Homo sapiens: one gene and its partner. The protein of the gene in region 1 purifies or fractionates together with the protein of each later gene. This does not show direct contact. Each region holds a gene or a part of one and is shown in the gene's direction. Other genes may lie near its edges.

What was found.
Region 2: the proteins of CEP97 (region 1) and BTBD2 purify together in Homo sapiens (affinity purification with western blotting, with the first as the bait; one study listed by BioGRID). This does not show direct contact.

Annotation. Positions count from the first base shown.
Region 1 is NC_000003.12:101,766,114-101,769,765, forward strand, and holds part of CEP97 (centrosomal protein of 97 kDa), read left to right. Parts: 3' UTR 1-3,652. UniProt on the Homo sapiens protein: Acts as a key negative regulator of ciliogenesis in collaboration with CCP110 by capping the mother centriole thereby preventing cilia formation. Required for recruitment of CCP110 to the centrosome.
Region 2 is NC_000019.10:1,991,659-1,995,310, reverse strand, and holds part of BTBD2 (BTB/POZ domain-containing protein 2), read left to right. Parts: intron 1-2,134; coding exon 2,135-2,291; intron 2,292-3,254; coding exon of another isoform or gene 3,255-3,434; intron 3,435-3,652.

The DNA of each region.
Region 1 (3,652 bases):
AAGGTAGGATTATAAGATTTCTCAATGGGGATGATTAAATTGTCTCATGGAAAACTTCAGTTAATGTCATGCATCAGTTTTAACATATGAAGTAAAGTGTTCTATCCAGGATTAAAGTCAAGTTTACTTAGGCAACACAAGAATATTTCACTTAGATATGAAGAAAGGAAACACTAGTCTCCATTCACTTGAAATACTCTCATGGCAAATATTTATCCTCTCATTAAGTGCTTTTTCACCCTATAGGTAAGCATTTTTGTGCCAACATGTTGTCAGAAATTAATGTATGTTCATCTCCTCTGTTCCTGCTTATTTTTACTTATATATTTCAGCAGAAGGTCCGTGGCCATTCACTTCAATTTTGACCTCTGTCCCATAGTGAAGAACATTTAAAGTAATACTACTGGTCGAATATGAATGACTTTTTAGGAACTACTTTTTGTCTAACCTGAAAAAGTTCCACATTTGGAAGACAATTTAATGATGGTGAAGAAATAATAAACCTCACTTTACTTGTTAAAAGGGATATATATATATATATATATGTCTGCAACTTCAGGGAGAAATAAGATTGTGTTTGAATATTGTAGGTAGATGCATTTGTAATTAAGGATAATATCGTTTAACAACATGTATTTGGTTTCCCTCAACTTACAGACATACAGCTATTTAAAACTATGGCAATACTTAAGCATCTCTAAATTTAGGTGCTAAATATCTATTATTCTGTTGTAGTCATTAGGTGCCCTTCTCTGAAGTTATGTAAAATAAAAGCATCTGATCCTTCAAGGATAAAGTTGAGGATCACATGGTACGTGGCATTTGTTGTTATTGTTTTTTAAAGAGATGGAGGCTGGCTCTGTTGGTGCGGTGCCATGATCATAGTTCACTATAACCTCGAACTCCTGGCTCAAGTGATCTCCCACTTCAGCCTCCCGAGTATCTGGGATTATAAGCAAGAGCCACTGCTCCCAGCTCATGGTATTTGTTGATAGTCATAACATTTTTCCTGTATGGTAAGACGTATTTTTCTCAGTTTATAAATACGTAGCACTCAGGTTGAGACGACTTGGATTTTATTCTTAGAAATCCAGAATCCCTTGAAAAGGAAATATTTTCTGTTTCTTATAAATAAAAGAGTAATCTTACTTTCAGAAGGATTTTCCTTAGTGAAACATGTGTAACATTGAATGCATGTTAAATAAAAATGGAATTTCTAACTTTTTTTCAATAGTGCTAATTATCTTTTCTGAATGATTTTGAATGTCTTCTTAAATATACCCTATTTTTCTATTTTAAAGTTAAGTGCCTCACTTGCTGTCCATAGTTAGACAAAGAAAAACCAATTTCCACTGCACTAGTACCAAAATACTACTTTATACATTAGTTTTTCATAAAAGCTGCTGGAATGTCATGATTCAGTATTACCTAAATAGATTTCTGCTAAAATCCTCTCCCTCCTGTCTTTTTTAAGTTATGGAAAAACACAACTAAATTCATTTGATCATCAGCACTTGTTAGCAGGATTTCCTTTTTTACCTTTGCCTTGTTTCTTTAGCCCACAAATAGTACTCAGCATACTTTCATTAAAAATTTGGCACAATATGATAATTGTTAATATTCTGTTCTTCGTCTGTGTTTTATTTAACTTTTACTAGTGTTTAGAAGTGCAAGAATATTAAATAGCCCCTTCCTTAACTGTACATATTATCTTGAATGTAGATAAAATGAAAATACTGTAAATTAGAGTGTAGGAAAACTGGCATAGAGTTAATATATTTTAATGGGTTTACATTATACTTTAAAAGTAATTTATATAATTAAAATATTTGGTTTTAACTCTATGGGCTATTCTTTGGTTGGCTGAAGAGGGAATGGGTCTAGTAAGGTTTGGAAAGTTAAGCTTTGAACATGGTCTTTGTGTTTTTTTCCTAACAAGGAAAGGTTTAGTTCAGCTGTGCTATTTTAGTACACATCAGTTCTCTTGATTTATGGAAGATTCAGTTTATCAATTAAGAATTCCTGCAGAAGCACAGAATCATACCATGTAAGAGTTGGAAGGAAGCTTAAGAGATTTCTGTTCGAATCTCTTTGTTTCAAAGATGAAACTAAAGCACAGCATGTTAAATGACTTGTCTAAGTTATAGCTAGTTAGTAGTAAATAAACTGAAAACCTATATGCTACTGTAGTCCAAAATTTTATTATGTCCTCTTAATCTTTACATTTAGTGAGTCAGTAAGGAAATCTCTGCATATTTCTCATTCTCTTTGAAAGAGGAAAAAAACTTCTAAGAGAGCTACAACTCTATCACTCATGACAGAGTTGCTTGTAGAAAATAACTAATTCCTTCAGAACCCTGAGTGAATTTTTTCTAAGAAATGTGACTTGATTAAAATGGTTTCAAAAGAGCAATAGTGGAAATTAAAGTTTTAGAAAAGAGACCTGGCGTGGTGGTTGACAACTGTAATCCCAGTGCTTTGGGAGGCTGAGGCCAGAGGATCACTTGAGGCCAGGAGTTCAAGACCAGCCTGGACAACATAGCAAGACCCCCCTCTCTACAAAAAAAATTTTTTTCTGAAAAGAATAAGTACATTTTAGAGTCCATTTATTTGACGACAGGCAGTATGACAGGTTGCTGAGGTATATAAAATTTTCTAGAGAAATGCTGAGTTTGATGACATTTTATCTTCAGTTTTGTAGAACAGATGTTAAAATGTTAACTCTCCTGGTGTGCAGAAAGCTGTAATCATGACAGTTGATAATATGCAATTTAGTTTGATTTTATAGGTTTAATTATAAAAGGCTTCACAATATGCATGTTTTAGGAAAATGTTCATTTATTTAGTCATATAATCGTTTGTATATATGTAAATAACTTTATTCTGGAATAATGTGGGTGCCATCTTGAGCGTGTGTTTTTATCTGTTTTGGATTATTTTTTGTATACAAACACCATAATACTGTATTTTCCTGTTATCTACTTAAGTCTAGTTCTACTTTTTCCCAATAATTTCAGGAAAATACAAGCTTGAGATATTATACTATCTCCCTTGGTATTTTTTGTGTGCAAAGTCTTAGAATTGGATTTATAACATTGATAATAAAAATATAAAACGTTTTTCCTCGGGAGTTAAGATGGTAAAAAGAAAAAAATAGAATGAATATGATCATTTCTCCATCATAAAGGAAAGAAGAGACTTCATTGTGTGTGTGTTTTTTTTTTTTTTTTCGAGATAGAGTTTCACTGTTGTCACCCAGGCTGGTCTCAGCTCACTGCAACCTCCACTTCCTGGGTACAAGCGATTCTCCTGCCTCAGCTTCCTGTGTAGCTGGGATTACAGGTGTGCAACCACAAGGCTCGGCTAATTTTTTTGTATTTTTAGTAGAGATGGGGTTTCACCATGTTGGCCAGGCTGGTCTCGAACTCCTGACCTCAAGTGATCCACCCACCTCGGCCTCGCAAAGTGCTGAGATTACAGGTGTGAGCCACTGTGCCCAGCCGAGACTTCATTGTTTAATGTATATTTTTATTTTTTCCAAACACCAGCTCGAATCAGAGTATATTTTTATTTTGCCACATACCTTTAAAAGGTATTTATTGTGTCATAATGTTTTAAATGTTAAATATATGATACCCTCATTCATGAAGTG
Region 2 (3,652 bases), on another chromosome or scaffold:
GACTCCCTCTCAAAAAAAAAAAAAAAAAAAAGAATCCAAAGTATGGCTAGGCGCGGTGGCTCACACCTGTAATCCCAGCACTTTGGGAGGCTGAGGTGGGTGGATCACCTGAGGTCAGGAGTTGGAGACCAGCCTGGGCAACAAGGCAAAACCCCATCTCTACAAACATACAAAAATTAGCTGGGCATGGTAGCAGGCACCTGTAACCCCAGCTACTCAGGAAGCTGAGGCAGGAGAATCGCTTGAACCTGGGAGGCAGAGGTTTTAGTAAACCAAGACTGCGCCACTGCACTCCAGCTTGGGCGACAGAGCGAGACTCTGTCTCAACAACAACAAAAAAAGAAAAACCAGAATCAAATCTTCATGACATTGGGTTTGACCATGATTACTTGGATATGACACCAAAGACACAGCCAAGAAAAGAATAAACAAAGACATTGGACTTAGGGAAAATGTTAAAAATGTATACCTCAAAGGACAATACCGGCAGAGTGGAAATGCCACCCACAGGCTGGGAGAGAAAAAAAATATTTTTTTATTTTTTCATTTTTTGAGATGGAGTAGCGCTCTGCCACCATGGCTGGAGTGCAGTGGCACGATCCTGGCTCACTGCAACCTCTGCCTCCCGGGTTCAAGTGATTCTCCTGCATCAGCCTCCTGAGTACCTGGGACTACAGGCACACGCCACCACGCCTGGCTAATTTTTGTATTTTTAGTAGAGACCCGGTTTCATCATGTTGGCCAGGATGGTCTCGATCTCCTGATCTCATGATCCGCCTGCCTCAGCCTCCCAAAGTGCTGGGATTACAGGCCTGAGCCACTGTGCCCAGCTGAAAAAAAAATGTGTTTAGAGACAGGATCTCACCATGCCCACACTGGTTTCCAACTCCTGGTCTCAGGCAATCCTCTCGCCTCTGCCTCCCAACGTGCTGGGATTACAGATGTGAGCCACTGCTCCAGGCTGGAGACATTTTTTTATTTTTTATTTTTTTTTTGAGAGGGAGTCTCACTCTGTCTCCCAGGCTGCAGTGCAGTGATACGATCTTGGCTCACTGCAACCTCCGCCTCCTGGGTTCAAGCGATTCTTGTGCCTCAGCCTCCCAGGTAGCTGGGATTACAGGTGTCTGCCACCACACCTGGCTAATTTTTGTATTTTTAGTAGAGGGGGATTTTGCCATGTCGGCCAGGCTAGTCTCTAACTCCTGGCCTCAAGTGATCTGCCCGCCTCGGCCTCTCAAAGTGCTGGGATTACAGGCGTGAACCACCAGGCCGGCCTGTGCTGCTTTTTTTTTTTTTTTTTTTTTTTTTTTTTTTTGAGACGGATTCTCGCTCTGTCTCCAGGCTGGAGTGCAGTGGCGAGATCTCAGCTCACTGCAACATCTGCCTCCCAGGTTCAAGCGATTCTCTTGCCTCAGCCTCCCAAGTAGCTGGGACTACAGGCGCCCACCACCACGCCCAGCTAATTTTTGTATTTTTAGTAGAGACGGGGTTTCACCATGTTGGCCAGGCTGGTCTGGCACTTCTTGACCTCAGGCGATCTGCCCGCCTCAGCCTCCCAAAGTGCTGGGGTTACAGGCGTGAACCACCAGGCCCAGCCTGTGCTTCTATTTTTGATCGGCCCAACTTCTGATCTGTATTCAGTGTCGTGTGGGCCCCTCGCTGGCAGGTGGTAATAGCGTCCATGATTATCCATGATCCTAATTAGCGTGTTGGGTTCTATGATCCACCCAGAAGTGGTTGAGGTTTTCGGTGGTGCCCGAGGTGGGGAACCAACAGTTCCTCATGGAAAAGGTGCCCAAGAAGGAGACACCCAGCTCCCAGTGCCCTCTCCTGGGGCATCCCGGGCAGAACAAGACAGGCCATATAGACGCTTCCGGGTGTGTGCTGTGTAGATGGGTTCAGCCTCTTGCTCGTTTTCATGGGTGACCACCTTGCCAAGTCGTGTCCCTATGTCAGAGGGCAACGGACAGGGGCTAATTCTGGAAGGTTCCTCGGGGAACCTGATGTGGGTGTTTGGGTCCTGCCAGCTCAAGGGCCGGTGGCCGAGTCTAACGGTCTGAGTGGTCCCCTGACGCTCTCCCCTGGGGGCGGGCATGGCGGTCCCACCTCACGGCCACCCGCGTTGCTTCTGCAGGTTTCTCTACTCGGACGAGGTGCAGATTGGCCCGGAGACGGTGATGACCACGCTATACACCGCCAAGAAGTACGCGGTGCCAGCGCTCGAGGCCCATTGCGTGGAGTTCCTGAAGAAGAACCTGCGAGCCGACAACGCCTTCATGCTGCTCACGCAGGTGGGCGGGGCCGGTACGAGGCGGGGGCGGGGCCAGGCCTGGCTGGAGGCGGGGCCGGGGTGGGGCGGACCGAGGCTGGAGGCGGAGGCGGGGCCGGGGGCGGGCCCGGGAGGCAGCAGGCTCCTGCCTGGTAGTAAAATGTGTTTTGGGCCGGGCGTGGTTGCTCACGCCTGTAATCCCGGCACTTTGGGAGGCCGAGGCGGGCAGATCACCTGAGCTCAGGCGTTCCAGACCAGCCTGGCCAACATGGCGAAATCCTATCTCTACTAAAAACACAAAAAAGAGCCGGGCGTGGTGGCGGGCACCTGTAATTCCAGCTACTTGGGAGGCTGAGGCAGGAGAATTGCATGAACCTGGGAGGTGGAGGTTGCAGTGAGCCGAGATCGCACCACTGCACTCCAGCGTGCATGACAGAGCGAGACTCCACCTGAAAAAAAAAGATGTGTTTTGGACTTTTCCGTGATACTTCAAAAAATTATTGGCAGGGTGCGGTGGCTCACGCCTGTAACCCCAGCACTTTGGGAGGCCAAGTAGGGAGGATTGCTTGAGGCCCGGAGTTCTAGACCAGCCTAGGCAACATAGAGAGACCCCGTTTCTACAAAAAATTAAAAAAAGATTCAGGCCGGGCACTGTGGTTCATGCCTGTAATCCCAGCATTTTGGGAGGCTGAGACAGGCAGATCACCAGAGGTCAGGAGTTTGAGACCAGCCTGGCCAACATGGTGAAACCTCATCTCTACTAAAAAAAAATATTTCATAAATTAGCCAAGCACGCTGGTGCATGTCTGGAATCTCAACTACTTGGGGGACCAAAGCAGGAAGATTGCCTGAGCCCGGGAGGTTGAGGCTGCAGTGAGTGGAGATGGCGCCACTGCACTCCAGCCTGAGTGACAGAGTGAGACCCTGTCTCTAAAAAAAAAGTAAAATAATTTTTTTTTGAGACGGGGTTTCTCTTGTTGCCCAGGCTGGAGTGCAATGGCACGATCTCAGCTCACTGCAACCTCCGCCTCCAGCGTTCAAGCGATTCTCCTGCCTCAGCCTCCACAGTAGCTGGGATTACAGGCCCCCACCACCGCGCCTGGCTAAAAAAAAAGAAAAAAAAAAACCAGAGAGAACTTTCTCTCTCTCTCTAAGGAAATGTCAGGTAGACAGAGCAGGGCCAGGGATCTCAGGGGACCCCAGTTGGGCTCTGTGCAGCCCAAAGGGCGGGGGCTGGGGAGGTCGTGCAGGCCAGGGAGGCTGAGAGGACGTGGGGCCAGTACGGGTGGACGGCCGCTTGGGAGCCGTGAGCTCCTGGTCGGGGGTGGAGGGTGGCCAGAGGGGACAGCGGCACTGGGTCCTCCAATGGGCTTTGGGGGTCCG